Linked DNA regions of Homo sapiens: region 1 is linked to region 2. Evidence: fine-mapped expression QTL. A gene starts in region 2. The other region holds a variant in brackets. All regions are shown on one strand. Distances are between the middles of the regions. Region 1 overlaps SETD3 (SET domain containing 3, actin N3(tau)-histidine methyltransferase). Region 2 holds the start of SETD3 (SET domain containing 3, actin N3(tau)-histidine methyltransferase).

Region 1 (15,189 bases), 59 kb after region 2:
TTAGGACATTTTATTGTGTCTGGCACACAGTAGGCACTCAGTGTTCATTGTTACTTTTATTGTTACTGTTAGATTAGAGCTGATTTGAGTGAGTGAAATTTAGGACCTGCCCCATGTCTGCACATACTGACCAGTCCGCTGGACCCAGGTGAGGTTTGTCCTGGAATATTTAGTCCTGGTTGCCAGCCCTTTGTGGGCAGGTGGGCATGGTGCTCGTGGAGGATCTGCTGTGAGAGGAGAAGGTGGCGCCTGGGCTCAGCAGTGCCAGGTTCAGTCACTCGCTGATGCATCACCTGCTTCCTCTCCCTCATTTCCTCAGTGGCGCCACGTGAGCCCCTAGAGGCCTGAGAGCAAACTCCCTTCCTGGCTACAGTTCCTAGCCTAATGTTTGGCACTTGATAAATGTCTGTTGAATAAATGTTCGTTGTTTGCAGGTCAGGTCAAAAGGTGTATTAAATACCCTGAGGAACAAGTAATTAATATAGCTGGAGTCTTTGGTGCTGGTGTCAGAAACCTTTGACTTTTTTCCCTATTTTAAAAACATGAAATTATTTTTGAATTTTAAGTCATATATACATGGAATAGAAAACACTAGAAAATATAAACTAGCATCAGGTAGAAAATTAAAGCTTCACATATTCTGTTTGACAGGGTTTCAGTGACCCAGAACCTCAAGTGGGCAGATCTGGATGGGCCAGAAACCTCAGTGTGAAATTCAGCTTCTCCCAGACTTCACTCCCATTGTGCATGTGTGTGTGCATATCTGTGCACCCAGGGCAGGGAGGGCTTTATTCAGAGAGCAGAGATCTTTCTTTACTCTTCTCCTCCTCAGTGGGAGCCAGTGCTAAACTTGGTTCCTGGATTCAACTCGAGTGAGCATAAGTCACCTGGGAAACTTACTGAAAACGCTGTTTCCTGGGCTTCCCTCTCTGGGCCCATCAGGCCCATCTTGAGCCATCAAGGCTGGGCTCACTCCCCCTCCCCTCTCGTTTAATGGCTGGGGGTAGTGACTGCTTGTCTTTGGACCCACTCCAGAATATCTTACCATTTCCTCTATACTTCACAGTTTTCATCTGTTTCAAAGAATGAAAACAGGTGTGTGGAATTGAGGAGACCAAAATAAATCCTTAAGCATATAAGGTAGGCCTTATGGAGGCCTTAAAATTACTTGATTTTCATAAGTAACTTTGGGACTTAAAAAGATTCAGATGGGTTTCTATATTGGATTTGCTTCTGTTCAAGACTCCTGGTGTTGAGGCACCTCTTCCTCACGTTTTAACTAGCCAGTGTCTGTCTGGAGTACAGAGCACATGTTTCAAAGAACTTGGATATATCCAAAACCCATAAATTTAGGACTGAAATAGGATGTTAGTTATCAGATGACTGAGTGAATGCTGAACATATATGGAAACAAAAGAGACAAGAAATGGTATAACCATATTAATGACAATCATGAAACAGACCAAATGCCTCGCACCCTAAGCAAAGTCTCTTACATCCCGTTTAAGAGAATCGGGGTGCTCTGTTTATGTTTAGATTTCTTGGCTTCTTTCCATTCCATCTCAGAGTTTCCCCTGCGTCTCACCAGTGCTCCTTTTCTTCACTTTTCTTTTCTTGTCCAGCCTGTGCCCTTGGTGGTGTGATGCCTCCTGTGTCTGTGTTCTGTCACTTACTTGCCCTCCCTTGTGTCTTTCTTTTTTCTTCATCCTTTTAAATCCTCTTCTTTTTTTCCTGCAAATATGTTTGGTTCCTGTGAACAGAACAGTTCAGTGCAGAAGGGCACTAACATTTACTGGGTTCCTGGATCATGGAGTGGAGATCCCATGGAGCAGAGGCACAGGCAGCACCCAGGGAGCATGCAGTGAGTGAGAAATGACTCCTGGAGACACCGTATTATGGCAGATTCCAGCCCATCTTGACTAATAGTCATATGTTTGTGTGAATTTTTTTGAGAAGTACACCCAGAAGTTCATAATTAAAATTTTTTTTTCTTTGCTGCTTAGAGGCTTAAAACACACATTTATTATCTCACAGTTTGTGTGGGTCAGAAAGGCAGGCATGGCTTAGTTGGGCTGTCTGCTGCAGGGTCTCTCTCAAAGCTGCAGTTAGGGTGTGGTCTCATCTGAAGGTGTGACTGGGGAAGGGTGCCTTCCATGCCCACTCCTGTGATTGGCAGCAGGCTTCAGTTCATCAGTGCCTGGGTTTCTTGCTGGCAGTTGCTAGAGGCCACCCTCAGTTCCTTGCCACATCAGGCCCATAGATTTTATCAGATTCTCAAACTTCACCTACCCCCTCCCCACATTTTCTCACTTCCTCCATCACTTGTTTTGTTTTTCTTTCTTTTTTCTTGAGACGGGGACTTACTCTGTCACCCAGGCTGAGTGCAGTGGCATGATCTCGGCTTACTGCAAACTCCACCTCCTTGGCTCAAACAATCCTCCCACCTCAGCTTTCCGAGTTGGTGGGACTACAGGTGTGTGCCACCACACCTAGCTAATGTTTGTATTTTTTGGTAGTGATGGAGTTTTGCCCTGCTGCCCAGGCTGATCTCGAATTCCTCACCTCAAGTGATCTGCCCTCCTGGGCCTCCCAAAATGCTAGGATTACAGGTGTGAGCCACTGCACCCAACCCCTCCACCACTTGTTTTGATTCATCCTTTGGCAGATTACTTTTCCTAAATGCTGAAGACCAGGGGGTGCTCAGTGTCTACAAAGTCCTTGTTCCTGGATGGATACTAACTTACTGACACCTCTCAAGTGCCAGCAAACTCTGGTAGCAGGGATTGTCTTCATTTTACATGTGAAGTAACAGACCAGATGGGTAGCACTGCTTGGGGCCACATAGCTAATACTCTAATGCTCCTGCCGTGGGCACTGTGCCACCCTCTGCAGGGCCTCATGTGTTGGGACTGCACTGGCATTGCACCTTTTCATCCCTCTGTGTGCCAATCGATTCTGCAAACCCCAGCTGCTCAGCTTCCCTTAACAAGCCCTCCTTTCCCTGCCTCTGCCATTTCCGGTACTCTCTGTCTGGGATGTCTCCCTTCCCACATGGAAAATCCTGCCCATCTTTAGAGACTTAACTCGCATGCCACCTCCTCTGTGAGTCATTGCCAGATCCCCCTCTTCCCGACAGTGACTGCAGCTTCTTTTCTGAATTCCAGCACGTGTCATGTATCCTGGTGTGACACGTCACAGTTTGCCTGTCTGGGCTCCCTGCTCCAAAGTCGTTGGCTCCTTAAAAGCAGGGAACTCATCTTGCTCATTGTCCCCCCACAATGCCTTGCACGCAGCAGACACACAGTGCAGGTTTGGGGAGTTGACGGACGAAGCTTTGCTGGGAAGCTTTAAGATGAGATTAAAGTGGCTCTGAAGCTGCAGAAATGTGCATTAGTACATCAAGGATAAAATTATACCACTTTATGCCTTGGCCTCCTTTATCGTTTTCTATAAAATAATAGCTATTTTACTTTGATAACTTTTGAGATTAAGCAAAATCTTTCTTGAAAGTTTAACACCTGTTCCTTTTCCTACTTTTTTGCAGATATAGTTCATCCTACAGTTTTCACACTTACTCACAAGAGTAGCACAGTAAATATTACATTTATTTCATTATGTCCTGTTTTTTAAAACATGGGCATATATTTTAAGCAGTTAAAGGCTAAAAGATGTGGTTATTTTGGTTATCCTTATGATGGGGTAACGTATTTTCACTGAAAGTCAGTGGGCATCTTCCAGTCAAATGGAGAAGTTGTCTGTTTCGTAATACAAAGGTATGTTTTCCTTGTCAGCATCATGTGCACCATTAAGTTTCTGTGAATAATTTGAAGTACCTAGCTTTATTTTTCGAGCTAAAAGGTTAATTTGCAAAATGACCACACTTGGGAAAGTTAGCAGCCTCGTCATAGGAACATGACAGGAGGCGCTCCGGATGCTCCCCAGCTGCCCCCCACGCTCTCTTGCCTGCCAAGTAAAACCCTGACATCACCGCCTGCTTCTCCCTGCGTCCCCACCTGAGTTACTGATTGCAGCATGTGGGGCATGCAGTGTGGGGGAGGCAGAAGGTGGGGAGTAGGTAAATATGAAAGGCAAGGCCTCTGCCCTCGTTGGCCGAGCGAGGTGTAAGTGGACACTTTGGAGGCTGGGATGATCCTGAACCTAGGAACTGAACCTGGGAACTTGCTTTTCTGAGCTTGGCAGGCCGTTCTGGTGTGAATTTAAATATGCTCCCCCCTGGGAGAGGACACCTTAAAAAATAAAGGGCAAATTTTAAAGGGAATCTACACGTTGGTCAGTGATCACTACTAGATGGGCAGTCTCTTACTTTTCTTCCAACCTACGATTATGACTTCTGGGGAAAATAGGAAGTGGCAATGGTGAATATGGAGTCAGTTCATATTTATCAGCACCTTCTGTTTGCCAGGTCCAGCAGGAGAGCTAAGGACTCTCTCTGCTGGGTCCCCTTCCGCCCTCTCCCCACATTCAGGCCTCAGCTGCTCTGCTGCTTTCCGTGCTCTGCACACCCCAGCACCTGTTCCCTGTTGTTGCTTCCTTCCTGTTTGTGACTATTTGTCAGTGTCCACCATCCAGCAGACAGGAAGATCTGTGAGGGCAGAAGCCAGGTCTGTCTTGCTCCCTGCTTTTCCACTTCACTCAGAGTGGGTGCTGTGAATATTTGTTGAATGAGTGAATGAATGAATGAAATCCATGAAGCAACTCAGGAGCAATTTCACGTGGCATAAACCAGAGTGCTACGTGGTATTTTGTAGACTGCATGGGTTAGACATTTAGAGGTCACTGGAGGTCATATGTAGATTTGAAGGCAAAGGAATCTTAAACCTTGTCTTAGGATTTGGCTAAGTGGATGGGGGGGCGGATTATTCCAATAATTGGATTATTATTCCAGTCTGGAAAGTTGTGAAAATGTGTATGTTTGGGGGAGGAGGGTTTGAACTGTTTTCCACACCAAGTTTTTTTTAGGGATTAATAATCTAAGATTACCTCTAGGTTAATACAACAGCTTGTTTTTTTTAGAAATTAAAAGGTAAATAGGAAAAATAATGGTCATTTTGCTGAGCATAGAGTCTTAACTGACAAAGCTAATGATCTGGAAAAACCTATGTTGGAAAATGTCACTTTATTATATATGTCTGGAAGTACAGATGGGAAAACAGATTTTTTTCTTTTTGCAGTAGATTCATTAAGTGCTTAAGAAGAGATTCTCTTCTGTACCATCTTTACAGCCTGAGTAATTGGAGGCTAAATCTAAACTCCACATTGTCTTATGTTTCTTGCAAAAGAGGTAGCTGGATTGCTATTTTCTGACACTTAAATGGAGGTCCATTTCTAGGCATCTGCCAGTGCCTTGCTTAGAGCGAGATAATCCCTTCTGCACCTGCCGTGTACAAAGCGATTATGGCAGAAACTAAAGACTAATAACAGCTGACGCCTACTGACTGCTTACTGTTTGCTGAGAATGTTCCACTGAGCACAGAAACCTTAGGCACTTGCTCCAGGTCTTCCAGGTTCAGAGCTGGCGCTGGGCTTTGCAGGGCTAGATGCCAGGCAGGTGCTCTAACCACTTGGCTCTGCTGGGCCACACGGCAGCTCCCAGTGCCCGCTGGCAGGCCTTTCGTGTTCTTGCATGCGCCTAACCCCTTGTGGCTCCTACTCTAGGAGAGTTAAATACCAAGGTGTGCACGTGGATGGCGGAGTTCCTCCTTGAACCTCTGACTTTGGCAAGATAGTTGGCTAACCATCTTGTAGAGGGTAGGACTCCTTAGTTCAGCAAACCTGCTAGAGTGTTATTTTGTGTGCCAGTGCATAAATTAACCATTATTATTTATAGTCCTGTTTCTTTTGGTCTGGTGCAGTTTAATTTAAAAGAAGTAGGGAGAAGTGAAACTGGTTTGCTGTGATTTAGTCCATCAGCCCTCCCTCTGGACTGCCTCATCCCTCCTGTTCTATAGGGCACCCTCCGAAGCCCCGTGTCCTCCCCACCATCCCCTTTCTCAGCTTCTGCTCCCGGGTGCTGAGTGTTGTGAAGTTTCCAGGTGCCATAACAGTTAGTGCAAGGTGAGTCTAGCCTTCTCAGCCTGGCCGGTGAGTCTCCTTCCTGCCTGGAGAAAGGCACAGTTGTGTCTTACCGGCTTCTCTCTCACTTCCCTGGGTACAGATTCAGGGTCTCTGTGTCTCAGCTCTTCCTGGGCTCCCCTCATCCCTGCACTGCTGAGAAAACTGAGACCATGTGACAAGAACTTCCTTTCCTTTTGTCTCCACCTGGGTTTCTTATGTCCTCCTCTCCTCCCCTCCCTCTGAGGAAGGGACCCCCCTTAGAGCTAAGGGAAGCCCTGGGGCCTGGTCAGGAACTCAGGTCAGGAGCTCAGCGACATTGGCCCTGTGTTTTCACTCTTTCTTTCTGTCCTGGCTTTATCCCCTTGGTTTACAGACAGCCCCCATGCCTTTGAGATGATGTCCTGTCTGTCTTCCACCTTTAATCACAACATTTATCAAGAACATTCCACACTGAGAGTTCTTCCAGCCCCAGCAGCCTGGCTCTCCCCGCCCTGAAGTGTGATGCCCTCTGGGAGGGCCTGGGGTCTGGCTTCTTTCCCTGCCCAGTCCCCTCATCCTCCCCACGTTCCTGCTTCGTTCTTCCTGCTCTTCTGAATCTCCAGGCTTTTCTGACCCTACCATTCCTGTCCCCCGAATGTAAGAGCTCTCCAAGTTTCTGGGCTCCGAGTTGGGAGTCAGCTGACCTGGATTTCAAAACCCAATTCTGAAGTCTTTTCTCATCTATGACTATAGTCAAACATCTTATAGTAAAAGATAGCTTAAGTCAGTCTATTGGATTTCCTGCATTCTATTCCAGGTGGACAATTTAATAATTACCTGTTTTCTAGGTAGTGCTTAAAAGATCTGCACTGATTAAACTATTCTTTCATTGAAAATTTGTTTCCAGAAATTGAATGCTCCAACAAAATGGTATCATTCTTAACAATGTGAGATAGTATTTCCTCTGGAAAAAAAAAAAAGAGAGTGAAATCCATTTTACCACTATTGATCAGTAGAGCATTTAATGAAGAAAATATAAGGCAAAGTATGATTTTTATGAAAAAGGAAGTAATCAGACTTGAATTTTCTAACTTGTGCTACTTGGATATCCCTTGGCCGTTCTCATAAGAGAAACCAGGTACAGGTGGGTGCACTCTGTGTGATTTGGCCTTGCTTCTTTGTTCTTCCAGATTTTACCCTGTTCAGTTTAAGACAGAGTGTACCTTTAACAGTACTTATGGAAGTACTGTGAATGACTTTTTTTCTAACATATCTTAATGCTAATGGAGAAATAGCAAGTACTGATGGCATCTTAGTGCCTGCTCTTTTTTTTTTTTTTTTTTTTTTTTTTGCATAACAGTGCTTAAGAGCCTTCTGGTATCTATTTTGGACTCCTAATGAAATGAGAAAGGCAATTAAAAAAAATCAACTGAAGATAATATGAAATAGTTTTGCTTAATAACAAACCTCTCAGGTACTCTACCCAAAGGTATGGAGATTTTAAATTATGTTTGGTTATTCAAGTGTCTTGACTTACTATAATACCATTCTATTTTGATTCTAATAAATTATAATCCTATAATTCAGTTCGTTGCCGTTTTAATGGGACATTTTACTAGTAATGTTAAAATATTCATTTTATTTGTCAAATTTCAGGGTAATATGTTTGAGGGTTCCCTTCTCAGAGGATACAAAAAAGGGTTACTTAGATTTTGAGAGCTATAGCTCTTTCTCAGTGACTGTATATTATAAACAAAGAAGTTTTGTTACTTCCCTCTGAAAGGCCTTTACACCTCCCTGCTGTAGGTGAGAACAGTAATTTGGCTGTATCTAGAACAACCCAGGGACAGTGTTGCGGATTTTCTCTTTGATTGGTACCTTTTGAACACTCTTTGAGCGTGGGGAATAGAGAAAAGGAGGGAATATGAATAACTGGAAACTGCTTCCCTCAAGTAACTGAGCTTCCTGAGGTGGAGGAGCAGAGCCAGTGCATCTGCGACTTGCTGGTGTCCACAAACCCTCTGTCCCCAGGCGCCTTGGGGGCCGCGGGGCTCCACAGAGCCGCACACTGAGCCTTTGATGGGGGAAGGGTTTTTGAGCTGTGTTTTCTTCCCT[G/A]CATCCCCACTTCCCTCCTTTGTGACCAGCAGCCCGGTATGGTACAGTGGGGACCTTTACCTTAGATTTTGTTATCAGTGAGATTTACCTAAGTAAACTCCTGGCAGCTGGTGACAAGGCAGTGTATGTGATGTGTGGATTTAGATGGTGCTCTTTGAGAATGTGGCTGTCTCAGGCTCAGTCAATTGTGGCAGTCCTCCTAAATCAGTGGGATTGACTTATTACATCAGGATTTGGCTTGTCTTTGTTAGAACCCCAACAGTCTACAGAGAAGGGTTCTCAGATTCTGTGGTGCACCCCTAGAGCTCATTCCTCATGAGCTCCTCATAGACTACTCAACTTCCTTTAGGCTTAAAAGCAGAATGTTTAAGGGACCAAAGTTCATTTCCCTAACAACATGACAATAAGGAGAGTTGAAAGTAGCCAAAAAGATAATGCTAGTATAATAACTTGATATAGTGGTTTAATGATTGGCAAAGCTGTGGGGTGTCTTTGAGGCTGTTAAGAGTTATCAGAAAAATGATAGAATTCCAGATGATGGAATATTGGAAATTGTTGGGACATCGATGTGGCATCATTCTAGTGAAGAAAATGCCAAATATGACCTCTCTCATACATGTATTTGATACATATGTTTTCTGGTCCAAACTTCTTCATGTGCATGGTGAACAGAATTAGACCAGGTAATCTAAGTTACCATCCAGGGCTGAGATTTTATGACCGAAGACTTAACAGCTAAACATGGTATTCTTTCTGATGGTGCGGGAAATAATAGACTCACTGTCTTAGTTTTGCTAATGTTGCCTGCCTTTAAACTTCATAATGCCTTTTATAATACCTCTATGGTGAATTTTAAATGAGAACAGTATTTACCAAGCATTTTTCTGGAATTTCACCAAGCAAAAATATATTGATTTTATTAGACTTTATAAGACTATTTATAAAAGTAGGACAACTAGATATCCTCTGCCTTGAAGTAAACTCCAGAAAACTCTTGTCTGGATTGTTGCCTAGCCTCATCATTTATTAACTGGGTAAACTTGGGTACGCTTTTAATGTCTGTCTCCCTCAGTTTCCTCATCTGTAGAATGAGGCTAATAAGTGCCATTTCATAGGAATTGAGATGATTAAATTATATGCACATAGAGTTCTCGATAGAGTGCCCGGCACAGAGCGCTCAGCAAATGATGACTGCTAGTGTCTGTCTCCCTCTCCCACTGTTTCTCATGGAGATGACAGAGAGCTTTCTTATATACCAAGCTGAGGTCATACCTTTCTAGGACAGGAGTTTATCTACATATTCTGAATGTCAGTTACCTTATAAAGGAAGTTGGTTTCATTATGGTGGTCCTAACATTCTCTTGTAAATGACTGATTACTACTACTGATTACAACTACTCTTGTAAATGACTGATCATACTAGATTGACTCATTTAAACAGAGTCCAACGTAGTTATCCTGAATTATTGAAACCCAAAATTGCTGAAATTAAAACTAAAACAATATATTATGAAACTGGTGATAATACATAATTCTAGCCTGCTTTTTTGATACACTCTAGCCTGCTTATAAAATAATAACTTTTTACCGTTCTGTTTATTTCTAGTTTCTTTAATAAGATGGAGGAGTTGGAAGTATATATATCTTTTGAATAAGCATTGATCGATTGGTGGAGTTGACTTTTTGCAGACCAGAGAATGAGGCTTGGTCATCGTTTAGAGTCCTTAAGTCAGTCAGCAGATTGAGATGTTGGGGGTGGGGGTGGGGAGACAGGTAGTGTCAAAAGGCAAAGAAACGAAAGATTTACTGTCTTTAAAGAAGACAGCAGTAGCTTGTCTGCACCTCCCACCCCCCCCCCCCCCCCCCCCCCCCCCCCCGCCCTCGCCTGGCTTTTTCCAGTGAGGAAATGGCAGCACAAGTGGTTGGGCAGCATGCTTGGATGACCTGGCAGGTTCCCAGCCTCACCTCTTCGAAGGGTGTGTGCTACATGTTCGGGGTGAGTTGGGGGTGGGGCGAGATTTGGTGACCATTTGGTACAGAGGACTGGTGGGCTTGATCTGTGTTGTTGTTTCTCTTTGGATTCTTAGAATAGAGCTTTCTCAAATGTGTTTAAAGAGAGATTTGGGGAAAAAAATGAGAAGATTCTCTGGCCCCTAGATGGTAGAAGAATATTCTGTTCATAAGAGGGAACATAGGATAGAAGGATGTGGAAAGCTGTGTTTTTTGAAGCCTATGGTCACTGCCTTGGTGTGGCAGGGGTGCCCACATGGGCTGGAGCTTTCTGAAGAGGAATGTGGAGATCAGATTCCCCTGGGGTTGCCAGTCCCTGGTGCAGCCTCTCAGCAGCACCTTTGGAGTCATAGCTTTCCTCCGCTGTCCCAGGAAAAAGAGTAGAAGTGTATCTTGTCACTTGGAGAAAGAAGATTTTTTTGTCCCATTCCAGCAGGTGTAGTTAAAAATAAATTTTAAAATTTTAAAAAAGAAGAGGAATTCTTTGAATGAGGCACTGAGCAAGGCACTGGGGACTCACAGGGGGTCAAAGAAGACATGGTCCCTGCCTTGCTGAGCCTGCCTGTGGGGACTGGAGGGGAAGAGATGCTAATCAAATGGCCACAGCGCATGCAGTTGTGAGGGGCAGACTGAGGCCAGCGTGGGAAAGGCAGGAACAGGGCAGGAGGATCAACAGGGACCTGGAGATTGGAGAAGGTGGCCCGGAAGAAGAGGGATTTGCATGACCTTGCCTACCATCCTTTTGTGGTTTTTTGGTCACTTATCTGTCTTCACTGCTAGGCAGTACCCCCTAATGATATCAGTGATGTACAGTGCCTTCCACTTCGGAGGTGCTCAGGAAATGAAGTATGTGTTGAATGAATGAATTTCTAGTCTTAACCTATCTTCATCTTTTTTTCTAAGTCAATAAATATTTGTTGAGTAATTGATGATCAAAAATATTGATTGATTATCACTAAATTTGGTTCATAATTGGTTGCCCATCATAGAGTATACAAATGGTAGCTAATAAAAAGGTTTTTTTTTTTGTTTTTTTTTTTGAGACGGAGTCTCGCTCTGTCGCCCAGGCTGGAGTGCAGTGGCGGGATCTCGGCTCACTGCAAGCTCCGCCTCCCGGGTTCACGCCATTCTCCTGCCTCAGCCTCCCAAGTAGCTGGGACTACAGGCGCCCGCCACTACGCCCGGCTAATTTTTTGTATTTTTAGTAGAGACGGGGTTTCACCGTTTTAGCCGGGATGGTCTCGATCTCCTGACCTCGTGATCCGCCCGCTTCGGCCTCCCAAAGTGCTGGGATTACAGGCGTGAGCCACCGCGCCCGGCCATAAAAAGGTTTTTAAACAGACGTATCTTTTGCCATGTTTCAACAAATTTTAATTAAATTTAACTGGATGTAGATTATACATTCATTGTCTTCCAATGGGAGAAAAAGTTCTTCCATCATAATTTTATAAATTTATTGAACAATGTTATTTCTCCACTAATTTCATTTTCTTAATTTAAGTTTTTTAAATTATAAGGTGATACACATTTGTCATAGAAAAATTATATATAAGCGAAAGGCAGAAAATCTTAATTCAGTGTGTATTGATGTATTTAAATTTTTATTTCATCATATCAAGTGAATTCAAAGAACTTTATGATGAAAAATTCCCTGAAGAGTTGGATATAATCTGTGCTTAAAAATAAAAGTCTTAAAAATTGATTTTTTTCCCTCAAGAGCTGAACATGTGAACCATGTTTTGATTCTGATTTATGGTCATCAAAACTAAATTTTCAATTCAAGAGATACTTTGCAATTTGTCATTCTGTTCAACTGTATTATATCCACTTAGAAGACGGGTTGATCAGCCTTCTAGAAACTCGCTGTCTTGCATGCTGCTGCTTATGAGCCTGCATTTGGGGGTGGAAAGGGGAAACCTCAAGGTATTTAGTGTAAATTTTTCTCCTGCCTGCCATCTTTTCCATCTTTCCAATATTCAGCTTTCTTCTTTTTGTTTATCTTCTCCCATTTCTCCTCACTCTGTTTCCTTCTGGGGATGTCCATCTTCTTACTCTCTCTCTGCTCCCATTCTCTCTCTGATTGGTGCAGTATTGCTTTGAAGAGGAAGGGGGTCTCTATAGGCCTATAGGATGGGCCGATGGAGCTGTCTTTTGCACCTCTGCTTTCTCAATTTTTACAAAGCACATGTATTTGCTGAGGCCATGGATCCACAGTGGGCCTAGGGAGGATGCCACAGGCTGTCCTGCCCAGGAATTTGTCAGACCAGAGATCTCTTGGTTATGTGAGATAGGGTCACATTTCTGAAACTTGCAAAATTGCATCCACCCTAAAAGGCCAAATGTGAGAGTTTGTGACTGATCTCATCCTTGCAGAAGGAAGGAAAATGAAACCATCACGTGAGTTAGGTGTGTCTGTTCCTGGCTAATTAGTCCCTGACTAATTAAAAGAGATAGTCCCTGACTATCTCTTTTAATGTATGCTTAAGGAGTGAAGCAAAACAAGATCCAGCTGGATTTTAGTCAGAAAAATTTAATTGCATGGCATTATGGTTTTTTTATCAGAACAAGCTAGGTGCAACTTCTAAATTATATTTTGTCATTTCTGATACTATAGTCATCAAACAGGGCAGAGTCACTGAATTCTTCCATAAATATATTTGAAATTAATAATTTTGCATTATGGCAGGATGTAAATTCTTTAACATACAGTATTTAGAAGAGTCATTTCTATGAGCAACTTTCCTTTTTGTATAGTTAAATGCCTCATTGAAGGTGATTAATATGTTCAACTTGTTTTTCTTTAAGTAAAAATCAGTCTGGGTAGAGAAGAATATTCTTTAGAAAAGTAAATATCTGATTTTGGGAAATGTTTGTGTCTTAGAGGCCATTTGTGTGTTCTAATATATTTTTTTCTTCAGAGCATTTTGATTCTTTAGGTTAAATATGGCCTTTTGAGAATTGTTTTAGGAAACACCTCTCCATGTATTTATGGAAATACTTTTATTTTAAAAATGCTTATTGTTAAATGTTTGAAAAACATGAAAAACAAAAAAACCTTAACGCAAATGTATTTTGTTCCTGTGCAGAGCTGTTAATGTTTCAAAGCTGTTTCACGTACTAGATGTTTCTGAATTAGGGATTCACATAATAATGAATTCTGCTTATTTTGGTTCTCCACAAAGGTTTGTTGTATGAGCTTAAAATAAGCCTGCAGCTGATTTGTGTAACACATATTAACTGTTTGTTTAGTTTAAGTGCATGTCTGTATCTCTCATTTCTGATCACCCTGGAACATTTGCATGCTGCACAGCAGCCATCTTCTTTTATACTTTATTAAATATCTGTCAATTATAAATATCAAGGTTTTACATTAATGTCAAGATAGTACATCAAAAATTCATGGAATATGTGACTTTTTCCAAGGGTATTTAATACTTAATGCATCTGTGTCATTTTTCTTTCCAGAGATATCGACAGGTTTTATTAAGTGTTTGTTAGGGAGATTTCATTTTTATCAAGGGACTATAAAGAGAAGCTGCATGCTAAATCAATTTTTTAAAGCCGGAATATTGTTCATTTTTTCATCTTCAAACACTTATAATCCATAGGTTTTATTTAAATTTCTTCTTGGTTTATTTTTGTTTTATGTGAGTGATAGTTCAAGACGGAACTTTAATAAGGATCAAATATGCTGACTGTAGTGGTTTTTAATTTCCTTAAGCATAGCTACCAGACCCATGCAATATGGTAAATTCTTCAAAATGTCATACTTACATATTTAGCAATATTGCTCTTTTTTATTGAAGCCGAACAAACAATTTTAGATATTAATCTTTCCCAAACGTAGTGATTATTTTGTACTCGGTACAATATTACTGTGTCTCAACATGGAATGCCTCCTTTTGCTGGAAGAGGGAAGGGGAAGAGTGCGTCCCTGGGTTGCCTGGCTCTGTAGTGCTTCAGGTCTGATTATGAGCCACGGCAATGGTTCATTTCTCCATCTTCATATATTTATTGTGCTCAAGAAAGTAAAAATATTAATCACTTAAAAAATCTGGAGAAAATCCGTGGCTAGTTTCTCCGCCTGTATTTACTGGGAGGTGTGGGCTGAGGGGAGGTAGCGCTTCAGGAGACCCCATTGCCGCTGCTGCTGGGCCCCCCATGCCTGAGAGGCCCTCTCACTGTCGTCTTTCTGACAGTGGCAGGCAGAAGCTTCTCAGGGACCCTCCTCACCCATCCCATGTGTGTCTGTGTCTTGGAATCTACAGTTACAATTGGTTTGGAAGCTAAAACCAATTGGCTGCAGAGAGTACGTTTTCTGTTTTAATTGTATATTTTTATTTTAAAAGTGCAAGCTAGGAATGTCTTCTAGTGAAAAGGCTATTGTAATCAACAAAACCTTTATAAGCACCACTTTGCTTCATTAAGTGAGGAACGCTCAGTTATCTTTTGTATAACGTATGAGCTTAAAGATTTTCATCTAAGGATATTTTAGGAACTTTCCAGTAACTTCAGATTAATAATTTTTGGAAGATGTGTTTTAACTTGGTCTTCAACAGGGAAAAAAGGTTTTTTTTTGTTTGTTTTTAATACATTGAGCTTAAATGAAAATTGTTTGGCATAGACATTTGTCTTATCCTTGTTCAATTCTTCAGAATAAGTAAAACCATTTATTTTCAAAATTAAATATTTTTTAATTATGAATATTTTTGATATTTGAATGTCTCAAGATTCTTATAAAACTATTATATAATAGTTTTTAGAGACAGCAGAGATTTTTCTTTTTAGAAACCAAATCTTAGTTGGGTAAAGCTGAAGTAGTAGCTGTTTTTGATAAGCCCAGTTTTTGGTTTACAGTAAGTTGCTTTAAAGGCCTTGCCCTGGGAAATATCAAGAACTCTGCGACTGTAATCTACTCTCCCAAGTTGCCAGAAGGTGGCAGTAGTGTCACAGTAATGAGAGCTCTGTGGAGAGAGTTATTTCCTTTCTCCGTTAGTGTCACATTTTGCT
Region 2 (15,189 bases):
CGAGGTCCAGCCCACACTCAAGGGTAAAGGAATTAAGCTCTACTTTCTGGAGGCAGAGATATCAAAGAAATTGTGGACATATGTTAAAACCACCCACTAGTAAGTAAATATTTTGGGGGAAATATTTTACAATGCAAAATACTATACAAATGTCTATTTCTCCTTCAAGTTTCATCTACTAATTTTAGCATTCACCTGAGACGATTACAACTGTGGTGTTCTAATGGTGACTTTCTATTTCCTTCACTGCTTCAACATTTATTATTTGGAATCATTTTGTTAATATTTGTTTCTTCTCTCCCATTTGTTTATTTACTTTAGTACAGACATGAGTATTTTATTCTTTGGGTTATAATCCAATACTATCATTATTTATTTTGTTGCTCAAATTATTCCAATGTGGCCATTAGGTGCTCTTTCAGCTTGACTCCCTGCAGAGTACTTTTATAACTTTGATGTTTGAATCATGTAAATATTTAACATACTCATACACTTAACTAAAAATAAAAAAGCAAATCCTAAAACTCAAACCAAATGGGCAACAAAATCACACAGAAACTTACTTCCAAGTAATTTCTGATATTGTTACATGCTTAGTGAGATATATTCTAAGGACAAAAATAACTGAAAAGAATTATTTATTTGTTTATTTATTTACTTACTTACTTATTTTAGAGTCAGAGTCTTGTTCTGTCACCCAGGCTATAAGTGCAGTGGCATGATCCTAGTTCACTGCAGCATCGAACTCCTGGCCTCAAGCGATCCTCCCGCCTAGCCTCCCAAAGTGCTAGGATTATGGGTATGAGCCACAGTGGCTGGCCCCAACGAAATTTTAAAACTTCATTAGTGTACTGTTAGTAGTGTCATTAATGTTGTAATTTTCAAACACATTTTTTTTTGCATGTTGTGGAATAAAGCAAATATGTAAATGCTAATGTTGTTAGGAACCAAGATTTTCAGTGCAAAGAAAACAAATGCACACATGCAGAAAACCAAATGTTAAGAAACAAATCTGTAATGTTAAACTTTAACTGAAGATATCAAAATAAATCATGGTTAAAAAAAAATATATATATATGTATCCCATTTCTGTCCTTTTCAAGTACCAAGAAGGAATGACACTCCTAATTCTGAAATCTTAACTTTTTCAATACCAATACCCTCTAAAAGGAAGCAGGTTTCTTTCCAGTCTGGGGTTGGAGCCTGCCTGGGATGTACTCAGACTAATCAAAGCTTATCAAAAGACATAGGACTGCTGAAGGAATGATTTGCTAGGGAAAAAAAAAAAAAAGACATAGGAGCCACCATGATGGGTGCCCACTGGACTAATCCAAGGTAATTTGAATAGCAAAAAGAAAAATAACTGTGGTTGATCATAAAATAGTGAACATACAATCCAAGTGTCCATAATATTAATACATATAGAGAATAATACTTTGCTAGCACTGATAACTACTGATAATAAAATGCTACTGATAATAAATGCGACTTTGCTAGCATGGATATTAACTACTGTAAAAAAAATACAGTTGATCCTTAACAAAATGATCACACTTGACATCACTAATAGGGTGAAAACCTGACATTACATGGCTTCTGATGTGATGCAATGTGAAATAAATATCACCTACCTATGTAGTATTCTTGTCCCCCAAAAGCTTAACCTAAATTTAAGCAAACTTTTGACCGAACTTCCAGTTTACAATAAATACTGGTGGTACAAGAGTAAGTGAAAAAAGCACAACATGGAAACTATCAGTCACATCCAGAAGGTGAGACACTCTACTCAACAACTGACCCGGTCTCTTCAAAACAGTGTTATGAAAAAACATTTTGAGAGACTGTCTTAGATTTAAAAAGGCTAAAGAGGGCTACAACAAAATGCAATGTGTGAACCTTGATTAGATCCTGCTTTTTTTTTTTTTTTAAAAAAAAGAAATTTCAAACAATTTGGAAAAATTTAAGTATAAATTGTATATTAGAGGGTATTAGGGAGGGAATTACTGTCAGTTAATTTTCTTTGGGGGTAATAATGATATTGTGATTACACAGGAGAATGACTTTATTCTTAGCAGATGAAGGCTGAAGTATTTTGGGTAAAGTGTCATGATGTCTGCAACCTACTTTCAAATGGTTCAGCTAAAACACAACCACACAGTAAACATGGCAAAAAACGAACATGTGTCCACAGGTAAATAAGTTGTCATTGCACTATTCTTTCATACAATAAAAAGTTGGGGAAAAAGTCAGATGAGACTGAATAGGAGACCAGGAGGACTCCTTATCTTCATCAATCCCTCGATAGCCAAGGAATACTTGCTTATGTGTGGGTACTGCTTTCATAAATTACAACACTGTGATTTGAATTATAGCATACAAAAAGAAAAGTGAACTAATTATAAGTGTATGGCTGATTGTTTTTCACAAAGTAAACACACCTGTGTTAACACTATTCAGTTGAGAAAGAGAACAGTACCAACATTCCAGAAGCTCTCTTCGTTCTTTCCTAGTGACTATCCTCCCAAAGATAACTATTCTGACCTCTATTTCCATCAATTTGTTTTGCCTGTTTTTGAAGGACTGTGCGATGACACAGTACCACTTTTACATTTGGTTTCTTCTGCTCAATATTAAGTTCATGGGATTCATTCCTGTTGTTGCATAAAGCAGTATTTGTTCATTCTCACTGCCGCAGAGCAGTGGTTTTTAAACCTGGGACAATTTTGCCCCCCAGGGGACATTTGGCAATGTCTGAAGACACTTCTGGTTTTCCTAACTGGGGGGTTGCCACTGGCATCTAGTGTGGGTAGAGGCCAGGAATGTTGCTGAATGTCCTCAGTGCACAGAACAATCCCCCATGACAAGAAATTATCTGGTCCAACATGTCAATAGTGCCAAAGCTGAGAAAGTCTGCTGTACAGTACAGTTATATCCTATGAATGCAACACACTTTATCTATACATTCTACTGTTTGGGCATGTAAATGTTTCTGGTGTTTGATTATTAATAAGTGTTAAACATGTACATATATTCTTATAGAACAGAAGGCAACTGGACAGTTGGCTGAGGGAATCAATATCTTAGCACATCTTAGCAATTTATTCACAGTTGGGAATTGCTACTTTAATATACATACGCCTAACAGTTTTCCATGTACTTTTTCATTTAAATATTTCCTGAGCATTTACTATGAGCCAGGCCTTAATGGCATGGCAGGGCACAAGATAAGTAAGGTCTTTGCCCCAGGAAGCTTACATTCTAGTGGGAGAGACAATAAGAAAGAAATATATGAATATTTGTCAGGGAATCTTAAGTGCCACAAATAATAACGCATGTAAGGGGAGAGAACATAATGAGGTAAGGGCTGTTTAGAGGTATGCAGAAAGAGGAAGAGTTAGGAGATTATAGTAGCAGTTCAAGTAATGCCTAATACACCTGTCTCCACACAATGGCAGCTGGAACAAGGGGTGTGTGTGTCATAATTGGCCATGAGGCAAAGAATGGAAAAAGATGATTTCAAGTTTGACTGACACAGAGGGTGATACTAAAAAGACAAATGGATAAGACAAGAGAAAAAGCTGGTTTTGATAAGGAGGGAGGAAAAGAATTTGGCTCTATAAATACTAAGCTTGAAGAACTTTAAGATCCTTTTGTGGAAATATCTATCAGACAGATAAATAGGCCAGTTGAAGTCTCTACAGAACATATCTACTTGGGGTTCATCTACACAGAGGTGATAACTATAAAGTCATGTTGACGGATGGAGGGATGGAGAGTGAAGAAGGAAGGGGTCTGGGTACAGAACTCTGTGAACTTGTACCAAGTAGGAAGAATCACCAAAGGCGAGCGTTTGCCCAGTGACAGGAAGGTAAAACAGACTTGAATGCACTTATGATTTACCCACTTGCAGACTAAGAATCACCAAATTAGAGAAAGGGAAAAAGACTGGTCCAAGAAGTAGGGAAATTTGCATCCTTTGTTGCAAAACAAACCATGGGATGTCAGCTTTAAACCAGAGATGGTAGTCAACAGTGACAAATGCTAAAGAAAAGTTAAAGGACAAGGAACTAAGGAAAGTTTACTTTAATTGGTGATTAGTTGTTTATTAGAGACACTGAAAATTGTGATGGTTTCATGACTCTGCAAATACTAAAAACGACTGATTTGTACAGTTTAAATGGGTAATTTGTACGGTATAGGATTATATTTCAAGAAAATACATATATACACATATAAATAAAATAACATTTTTAGAAGTGCAATAGGGCAGAAGGTGTAGAAACTGCAAGGGGTGGTAAAGAATGAACAGACTAGGAAATAGGTTATTCTTTTTTATTCATTTTTTAATTTTTTGAGACAGAGTCTCCCTCTGTCATCCAGGCTGGAATGCAGTGGTGCTCACTGCAACCTCCCGCCTCCAGGGTTCAAGTGATTCTCCTGCCTCAGCCTCCTGAGTAGCTGGGATTACAGGCATAAGCCACCGTGCCTGGCTGGAAATAGGTTATTCTTTTGAGGCATCTGTTCTCAAAGAGAGTAACAGGGAATAGTAGGGAGTAGGTTTTGTTATTGTTTTGGTTTTTATATATTTTTCAGCATAAAGGAGAATGAAAAATGTCTGCAGCCAGTAAAAACAAAAAGGAATCACTAGAGGAGTCAGAACAAGGGAGGCTAACTGGTCAAGGGATAATAAAAAGCACAGCAAGAAAGTTAACCTTAGAAAGAAAGCTCTTTCTTCCCCTGAGAATGGAAGGAAAAGTTTGAGAAAGATATTTTTAAATAATCTTTTAAGGGGGAGGAAGTAACTAAAAAATCTCAAGAGTACCTCCATATTCTCTAGGAAGTATAATGCCAAGATATCTGTTGAGGGGAAAGGGGCAGAACGGGGAACAGTGTTAGGAATACCCCAGTAGGGATGAAACTGGAATGGAAAAGAACCTCGGTCCACAAGCGGATAAATCGTAAGTATATTCAATTGTTTTACCTTCTGTAACTGGCCAAACTCCTGGTCCCTTTAGGTTCCAAGGCAGAATATAAACAATTCATGAAATGTAGTGAAAATATTATGGACATAAACAGAATAGAGACAGTCCTCAAAATCGTAGAACTCCCTGAAAAAGTTTTTGCCTCAGGTCTATAAACCTGTTCCCTATTACTCTTCAATTATTTTTTCACAAGACCCTAAAGTTGTAAGTTTTCTCATTAGTAGCTTGTGATTCCTCTGAAAATGACTGAGATTTATGAACTCTGCAAAATGAAAATCCATAAACAAGCAACCTGTCAAGGCATTTTAGCAGCACCTTTCAGGAATGTGCTTCATAAATATCATTTTACATCATAAAAGACTAAATATATTTTCAACATTTAGAATTATGGAAACAATAGTAAATGTCACCACTCAATTATCTCACCCAATATCGAAATCCCCTCTTAGTAATATTTGGCCACTTATCAATGAAACCTCATTAGTTTACAAAACAGCCTATGGCATTGCTGGGTATCAATAACTGGTGTTCACATAATTCCTGTATTCCTATATTGATTTTTATCTGTCCTGTTCATCCCCTAGATCTGCTACACAGATGGCATAAAATAATGCATGAATGAAATCTACCTTTTAGCGACTCTTTAACTTCTACCAGGGTCCTTAAACTAAGCCTTGAAAATACATTTCCCTTATCTATTGATTGTCTTTCAAACAGGTAAAAGCAATTTTTACATTCTCTTCTCTAGGGTAAACAAATCTAACCATTTTTCTCATCATGATTTTTCTTTTTTTTTAGTGTTTCAAGTCCTCCCTAAATATTAGGAATCAAAACAGATATGATGTGCATAGCACATGGGAGGGGGGTGGTAACTAACATGCAGTAACATGTCCATTGTGTGTCTGCTGCGTTGCAGCATGTCTGCAAGCTAGTTTTCTTATCCTCACAATTTATCACTGAGAAAATGGAGCCAGAGACACGAAACAACCTGACTAATTCACAGCTAGCAAGCAGCATCACAACTAGTCTTACTTTATACCAAGATACTGCCTTCCCTCAATCTAGACACTGCTTTTCTTCTGTTTAAGTGGAATGTTACATCCTAGAACCACTTTTGTCAAGCCAGGAAAACTCAGGTTTTGTAAATGTAATCACACCAAGTAAATTTATTTATTTTTTATTTTTTTTGAGACAATCTCACCTAGTAAATTTATATCTGGCCAGTTCTGGCCTATTATTATATTTCAGCCTTTAAGAAATCTTTGATTTCTGAGTGTCATCTAATTTGCTCATTATCACTACATGGTTTGAGTGCATTTATTAACTTGAGAATCACGCTGCTTATCTATTTAAAGTTGGTATTAAGAAAGTGTTAATCCGAGTAAGGGCAAGACCAGAGTCCTGTAGCATATCTCCAAAGACATCTCCCCAGGCTTACATCAACTCATTAATCAACATTTCGGGTTTGGTAATTTGCATGGATATAAATCCATCTAACCACACCTTATCCAATGCACATTTAACTCTTGTGTCTACACACAGTATTAGAATCTTGTTGGAAGACTATGTCCTAAATAAACTTAAATGAACTTATGTCCAACAATCCCCAATCACCACCAGTCTAGTAAACTGTAACAAAAGGAAATATGATTTGTGTCACCTGGCTTTTTCTTGAGACAGGGTCTTGCTTTGTCGCCCAGGCTGGAGCGCAGTCACCCGATCACGGCTCACTGCAGCCTTGATCTCTCAGACTCAAGTGATCCTCCTGCCTCAGTCTCCCAAGTAGCTACTACAGGCATGCACCTCCACATCTGGCTAATTTTTTGATTTTTTTTTTGTAGTGGTGAGGTCTCACTATGTTGCCCAGGATGGTCTTGAACTCCTGAGCTTGTGTGATCCTCCAGCTTTGGCCTCCCACAGTACTGGTATTATAAGCGTGAGCCACCACCTCTGGCCTCACCTGGCCTTTTCTCACTGAAGCTCTGCTGGCTTCAGGGAATCAGCTCTCCTTTCCCAAGTACTCATAAACTTGTTGGCTCTTCCAACAAGATTCTAAAACAGATTATTAATAGGTTCCTAGTAGCCAAGAGCCATCGAATGGTTCTATGTGAAAACAGACATTTACCAGATTCTAGTCTTCTATCATTAACTGTACTTTTAGGATTTTTCAAAATCTAAGAATAACGATTTTATAAAGTCATCTGCAAATACTCTGGTATACAATTTACCTGAGCTTAAAAATATGATCACTCTGTAATCTCCTCAATTACCTTGAATTTAATTCCTCTAGATTTTTTTGTCCTTATCCAATTTTAAAGAAAACAAGCAGAAAACACTGTCCTCCCTTTCAGACACTCAGCAGAGTCACTGCTTTCAAATATAATGTCCTGAAATGAACTAGCCCATTTTATAGGCCACAGCTATGACCAATTTTTCTTTATGACATTCAATTTTAGAAACAGCATTTAAAATTTAAGAACCTCATTAACAACTCGAATAGTTTTTATTGCTTGTTAGTGCAAACTACATTTTCAAAATGGAACAAATTTAAACAGGATTTGCCCAGAAATCAACTAATATGCTTGAATAATGCATCACAATATAATCGAAATGAGATAAAAGAGGGAAAAAAACCCTAAAAGACACCAGCGGTGGTCACTCTGAATAAGACAATCTTGGATAATTATTATATTCATAGTCAAGATTATTTAACAGGTAAGCATCCTAAGGGCACTTTAATCCAAATGTCTATCAATACTACTACCACTACCATCATCCATCCATTCTTTCATTCAGCAATACAGAGGGCTTATTAAACGTCAGGCAGTGTTCTAGGCGCTGAAAGCTCCTCGCTTTCATTCTAGCAACATCATTCATACAAACCTTTAGCGGGCACCTACAACTGCAAGGCATTGTGCTAGGTATCTGTAAACAGCGATTTAGATCGAGATACACAAACATCACCAAGTTTCTCTTAAAAACACAGAAGACCACCCTTAAGAAATGCTCTTAGAAATAGTTCCTAACCTCAGATGACTTAGCGAAAGCTCCGTTTAACTGGCAGTCTAAATTTAGGGAGCATTACCGAGCCTATCTTGGGCAGACAATCGTTTAGGAGCTGTCACATAACCTCTAGACTTACGCTCCAATTTTCTAAAGAACAATTTCTCTCATAACAAACCAAATCAACCACCAGGAGCGGGTCCGTAAAGACGATGTCTGGGCAAGAACGAAATCTAATCCCGGAAGTGCCTTTTCCTCATCTTAGCCGCACCCTCGTTACGTGGCTCTCCAAAACTCCAAAGTCGGAGTACCCTAGACATGGAACAACCTCCAAAAAGTTTCAGGCCTAGCCAAGGTTGGGACTAATACGCCGCGAAATAATCGGGGAGATATGAGAAGTCTGTGGCTGTGAGACTGTGCGCGGTTAACACCGCTGCCCCTTTTGCCCAACCCCTAGAAAGTTCCCCAACTCTGACTGCCCCCCAGTGCGAGGGCCGCTACCAGTTCTAGGGTGAGTCCGGCCTCCCTGCCCCGCCCCGGCGCCTCAGACCCTCTCTACACGCCCGCCCCACAACCCCGCGTCGCCCGCAAAGTTCAATGTGTACCGGAGGTTAGCGGAGGGAGGCAGAATCCGGAAAGAGAGACTCCGCCAGTGGATAGCGGCGGTTGGCCATAACCTACTCCGACCTCCAGATACGCGGGAGGTGGGCGGCGCTGCCCTCAGTCGGTGGGTCACTCACCCCTCGCTTCAGGCAAGCCCCTCAGCGACGTCTCTCCTTGCCGACTGCGGCCATCTTGTATATGGAATGTCGGGGACCTACGTCATCACGCTGCGTCCTGAGACGCCACCAAGCGACCGGAGGGGCGGAGAGAGTAGGATGCCTGTCAACCAATGGGAAGAAAGCAGAGCTCTCAAAAGAGGAACGAGCCGCCGCTCTCCTCCCCGCCCGCCCCGCGGGTCAGTGGCTGCTGCTTACAGAGGGAGGAGCCAGCCACAGGGCCCATCCCGTCGGTCCCGCCCCTCGGGGCGAAAAGGCATTCTGGAGCAACCGAACCTGCTAACGGAACTTGGGCGCGTAGGCGGGGCCCGGGTCGAGATTCGTCCAATCAAAGCTCTGGCGGGGGCGAACGCAGCCAGTTGCGACATCGTGGTTGGCGGCGGCTGAGCCGGCCGCTCTTGCCCCCGGGAGCTGCCAGCCCACTGGCTGGGGAGGACCCCGAACGGAACGCCGGCTGGGTGGCGGGGCGGGGCCGCGCCCATGCGTCCGAAGCGTGGGCCAATGAACGGCGGCGGCTGCGGCCCGGGGGCGGGGTCCGGGGCGGGAGGAGAAGCGTTGGGCCGCGGTCGCGGGGCCGTCTCAGGCTGCCGTCCCGCCCCTCCCGTCCGGCCGCCGCCGCCGCCACCGCCGCCACCGCCTGGGGGTTGGTTGAGGCGGACGGCGGGGTCCGGGCCGGAGTACGTCGTTCCCGCTGCGCTAGGGGAAGCGGGCAGGTGAGTGCTGGCGGCGGTCTCTGCGCCCGCGCGGCCCGCGGGGGAAACTCGCGCCGCGTCTCCGAGCTCTGCGAGGCCGTCCCTCGCCCTGGCCAGCGCCCCTCGGCCGAAGTCCGGCCCGCGCCCCCGCCAGGGTCCCCGCCGGCCGCTGTGGCCCCGGGGCTTGAAGGGGCAGGTGTGCGCTCGGGGGCCAGGGCGAGGAGGGCCCGGCGGGGTCGGAGGGCGCCGGTCGGCCTCTGCCCGGGCGCCCTGCGGGGCGAGAGGCGCGCGCTCGCCGCTGCCCTGTCCCCTCTGGCGCCCACGCTCCCGGGCCCCGCGCCACCCGGTCTCGAGGTGGTGCCAGGTGCAGGCAGCGCTCTCCCCGAGCTTGCCCCGCTGTCCCCGGCCCTCGCGCCTGCTCTCGGGTGGGGCCCGGGCCCCTCGCGCTAGTCGGCTCGGCTCTGCGCGCGGCCGGGTCGCGCTCCCATTTCCTTCCTTCCTCCCGTCACCCCGCTGCTCGGGGAAGGCTGTGCGGTTTTATGTTCCTCTCTGCGAGTTCTCGGTGCCCACCAGGGTGCCCGGGGACCAGCCCCCGCCTCCTCCCGCGCCGTCCAGTTAGGAAGACGGACGTAGGAAATAGGTCGTCTTTCTTCCCACGCGCCCCTGGCCGTGCTCCACACGCGCAGTGCCCTACTAGGGAGAGGCAATTCGGTGCTTTAGAGTTTGTCATTCCGGCGTTAACTCTTCCTCCTCGTGGCTCCAGCCCGGCGATGCAACTCTTGTCTTTTCCCGGTCTCCACTTGGGAAAAGGAGCTGACAGTGACGCGCGCCCCTGGCTGCGGGGCTCACCCCTGCCCGGCCGGTGTTGGGAGGAGGGCATTTCAGTGTTGCAAAGGCATTCGCGGGTTAGGACCACTCGGACCGTGTTATTTTGCTTTTCTAAATAAATAAGGTGATGTTTCAAAAGCAAAAATACTTTTAAAGTATGCTGACAAATCAATTTTGCTTTTAAGAATCCTCGAAGAGTTACCCCATCTTCGTAGCCTGATTGTGGTGCTGATGAGGCCACTATAAATGCGTTTGTCAGAACTCAGAACCGGACACTGAAAAGTGTGAATTTTATCTTATGTAAAATATACCTCTCCCTCTCCCGTTTTTCTTCTTGAAATGACCTTGCCAGTATTTCAAAACTGAACTAACCAGTAATAATCTCGGAGAAGTGTTTATTATTTTAAGCGAATACATTTAACCCAAGAATATAGCAAAATAAAGCAGTCTTCCTCTCCACTGTTAAAATTTGCCAAGACTTGCTTGAACCTTGCTGTATGTACTGTGTTTATACGGGCTACCATGCGTGAAAGTCCAGCAGTACTGGATTAGTCCCAAGGGCTGCCGTGATTGATACTTTGGTGAAATTCCAACAGTTTACCGAGGAGTTTTTCTTCGGCCTAAGAAAGTAGTTTGCAAAGCCAAGTTCTCAAACAGCTACAGAACCTCTTTATTGGGACCCCAGACAACCTTGGATTTTAGCCTTCTGCTACCCCTTTCCTGTCTGCCCTCCAAGTGATTGTAAGTTAATATCTGAAATGGAACTGTAGTCTGAAGGAGTAAAATGGTTGCTTCTCCAGTGTGCTAACATCTCAGTGCTTTTTTTTCCTGGAATTGGAGTGGTGTTGGATTTGAAGATTAGAACATCTTATGTCTGTATGTACGGTTATAGCGAAAGCTTCTCGTAAGAGCACAGTGACTGTCAGTAAGAAAGTGATGGCTGCTGCGCTGCTCTTCCGTGCCGTGGACATTTAGGCCACATTTTAAATGATAATTAAGCTTTTGCTTTAGAAGCCACTGGATAATGAGAAAAATATGGAGGTGATATTTTTCCTATTTAAAGCTTAACCACTGGACAACTGTTTTGGTTTTGAGAGTTCTGATAAACGGTCACAACAGCCTCCTTGGAACACAGTACTCTCCTGCCTGGAGGAGAATGACAGGATGACGGCGCCGGGGAAGGTATGACCATCAGCGACGGAGGCTTGCTTGGAGTGAATATTTAGTAGACAATCATTGAATTCAATGAAAACCAGGTGCATAGTTTGTGCTGTGTAGAGTTGTAGTAAAAATATGAGCAAAAATCCTACCTCCAAGTCAGGGTTACTCTGAATGCTTTGTGACTAGATGTCAGTGTAGTTTGAGGCGTACCAGTTTTCTTCAATGTTTTAATTACATAGAGTCTTTTTTCTTATCACAAATCCGAAGTAGGGTTTAGAACTGTAACTAGTAATACTGTATCTTTCTTTTGTGTAGTTGGATGAATATCCTTCTCTGAGAGGTTATTTATCTTTAGAGACTGGTTTGCCTGTTCCCTGGCTGCTGTGCCTTGTGCTTCTGTTGAGGGTGGAGAGGAAGAGTTTCAAGTGTGTTTCTTTCCCTTGGACCGAAGTCCTGGGAATGGAGTGGTGACTTTGTTCCCTCAAAGAGAACTCGGAGTCATTTATTGCTATGGCATTAAATGTTTTTAACAGAACGGTGAACTTATCTTTATTCTTATGTTACTTTGGATGTTGCTTGTGGCCAGTTATAATATTTGCTTTCTCAATTACCTACCCTTATTTTTGGGCCCTTTTTTTATCAGTGAAAAATCTTTTGATTAGCCGTGCATCTTTTCTCTCCTGCTATAGTCATAGAAGTGTTTATCTGGCTAACAGTTTGTTTTGGGTCATATTTAACCAGTCGAGAGTATTAGAATAAAGAGTCTTGCTTTTTCAGTTTTCTATAGTTTTCACTTCTGTTGCCTTTACAATGGTTTTCTGTCATTGGATTTCCTTTTATCATCTCATTTTTCTATTCATAAATTGGAGAGGTTAACTAATTTGATATGCAAATAGAATTAATTTACATAATATTTACTCTCAAGGTAAAAAATTTCTATCAAAATATTAATATATATTAATATATTTTCCTATTACAAAGAAGTTGAGACTTGGCTTTTTTTTTTTTTTTGAGATGGAGTTTCGCTCTTGTTGCCGAGGCTGGAGTGCAATGTCGTGATCTCGGCTCACCGCAACCTCTGCTTCCTGGGTTCATTCTCTTGCCTCAGCCTCTGAGCAGCTGGGATTACAGGCATGCGCCACCACGCCTGGCTAATTTTGTATTTTTAATAGAGAAAGGGTTTCTCCATGTTGGTCAGGCTGGTCTGGAACTCCCGACCTGAGATGATCCGCCCACCTCAGCCTCCCAAAGTGCTGGGATTACAGGCGTGAGCCACCGCACTGGGCTGAGACTTGGCTTTTTAAAAAGTTACTTAATAGTCTTTTGAAAAAAAAATTAGCATCTGCAAGATTAAGAAGTCTTGCTTTTTAACTCAAGCCAGAGATTAGCTGTGTTGACCCCGTTTCCACTTGGGAGTCTCCTCTAAGTTTTGGATATAAACAGACTGTAAAAACGAGATAAAAACACAGATATTGAACAGTTTCGACTGAGATAAATTTGAATGGAAGAAAACTGATTCCAAATGATTATAAAATTCAAATACCAAAGTTAAGACTTTGCAATTTTTTTTTTCTTCTATCAAGTACTTTCCAAGTAGAAGTGAACTAGTGAGTCCAAACAGTCTTGGTTGACAATGAAAGACACATCTATCTTTGAAGTTAAGATTTTGAAAGGGATCTACTGATTACTAAGCCAAAGTGAATCATTAGCCTTTTGCAAGCCTAACCTCAGTACTGGGATGGGGAAGTAGGGGAGGGCAGAGGGACAGAGCAGGAAGAAATGTTTCCACTGTTTTTTAGAAGGACAAAAAAAATTGTCTAGAGAATGTAGATAATCAAGTGTCTACACGGAACTTTTTATTTTTAGTTTTTAATTGACAAAAATATATGATACATAGAACTCTTAATAAAATATACACTTAGGTTTATTACTGTCTATGATCCTGAGTTTCACGTTCCATTTTTTAAGAATACAATTCATCAGGACATAACAGGTCTAAGAAAGTCTTCCGACTAAATGGTTTACAATGTTCAGTCTCAGAAAATAGACATGCCTTTTCAATATCAGCAGTTTTCTATTACACATATTTGAGAGGAAGTAAAGATTAGTGTTGACAAATACTTATAAAAGCTGCTTTTACCATAAAATATTTACTAGTGTCTAATAACATTTTTGATTTGTTGTTTGTAAAAATTTAGCTTCGCTGCATGTCATGGTCACCTCATGGTTCTGCGTTTTTCCCTGCAACAAAAATGTGGCATTGCAGATATGGTGGACTGGATGGAAGCTCTTTTGGAAGTTTTGCCCATGTCCCAAATTTAACCTGCAGCTCCTCCTATGTATTTGGACAAAGCCAGCAAAATAACTATACTTTTAAAAGGCCAAAAAATAAAACCTTTACATGCGTATGTTTTATCAGTGCAAGGGAATAGTATTTTGAATATTAGCGATAACAGTGAACCTTTGGAGCTCTCATAAATGGGTTGGTTTTGAGCCGAACTCATGAAATATTATTATCAGTAAGATTTGTCATTGAGGTGTGCTGGTGAGGCTCTGACACAAACTGAGTCTATCATTTTGCATAAATTAATCAGTCTCCGTAAGCGTCAGCTTTCTCATCTGTGAAGGGGACTTGTTAATACCTATCTTATATTGTGTAAAATGCTTACCTCAATTCCTGATCATATAATAAATGCCCAAATGACATGATTGTGATGGGGACGATCATATTGGAGAACTTCCATAGGACACAGGACATGGCAAGGATGATCCTGAAATAACATGACAGCATGAATAGTTGCATTTAGGTTCAAAAACTCAGTTGTTGAATATAGCACATTTATCTTGCTGAAGATCACGAAAGGCTTTAGTTGATTACTGTCTTGTCCTAAAGGCTATGGGACCATGTTGCATCATCTTTGTGTTTGAGATTAGATTCTCAGGAAATGTGCAGGAATGAGGGAATGAATTCACTGGGCTCATAGAAAAGCTAGGGCAGTCTTAGGAATATTAGTCAAATTTCTTTGAGTTCCAGGAAGGTGGGTAGTCCATCTCAGAGCACATCTGAAGGGTTTTGTTGACTTAAAAAAAAAACAGTTCATTGAAGTATAATATGCTTAAGTGGTTTTGCTCACTTTTGAGAAATATGTAGTAATGAGGGGCACATTAAGCCTGGAGAAGACAAAACTTTGGGGAGACACAAAAGCTGACAGGTCAGAGAGGATGGTGAACTTCTCTGCAATATCGTACTGGAGGGGCTCACAAAGCAGGAGATTGCCTTGGAAGTGAACGTGCAGCTCTGCTGGCCGCCTAAAGGCGAAGCTTTGGAGCTGCCTTTTTCTCTTACTGGCAATCTGCCTTAGGCTGTGTTTGTTAATCAGGAATAACACGCTCTCTCTGTCCTGCCTGTCTTATATCCTTCTCAGACTTGGATCAGGTGAAGTACTGATCGTGACTGCTCCATAACATCCGGCACCATGATCTTAAACACGCGTGGGATTGAGAGCTACTATACATAACCCCAGAGGTCTCCTCTAATCCTGTTGCTCCTTGGTTTTAGAATCCAGAATCCTCATGTTAAGGAATGTGGGTGGTTTGAAGGTAATTTCTTGACGGATTACAGCTGTTTCTTCACACATAACATTGTCTTTTTTATTTTAGAAAGATATAATAGGAAATGATTATTCATGATACCCAATGATTTTTTGCTTTACAAAAGGTTTTTTTGGTAACTTCCATTAAATA

The links.
Region 1: its variant is fine-mapped to the expression of SETD3 in whole blood (INTERVAL, PIP above 0.99).

The regions. Positions count from the first base shown.
Region 1 is chr14:99,415,805-99,430,993 of GRCh38, reverse strand. All of the region lies in intron 6 of SETD3 (SET domain containing 3, actin N3(tau)-histidine methyltransferase), which reads left to right. Among named protein-coding and RNA genes, the nearest start is that of SETD3, 57 kb to the left of the region's middle. RefSeq lists enhancers at 5,082-5,944, 5,945-6,808. The variant G/A (reference allele first, on the strand shown) is at 8,170.
Region 2 is chr14:99,475,016-99,490,204 of GRCh38, reverse strand. It overlaps SETD3 (SET domain containing 3, actin N3(tau)-histidine methyltransferase), which reads left to right and starts at 9,346. Exons shown (of 13, transcript NM_032233.3): 1 at 9,346-9,477. CCNK (cyclin K) reads right to left here and starts at 8,796. Exons shown (of 11, transcript NM_001099402.2): 1 at 8,726-8,796. RefSeq lists enhancers at 8,536-8,905, 9,714-10,215 and silencers at 9,096-9,555, 9,666-9,865.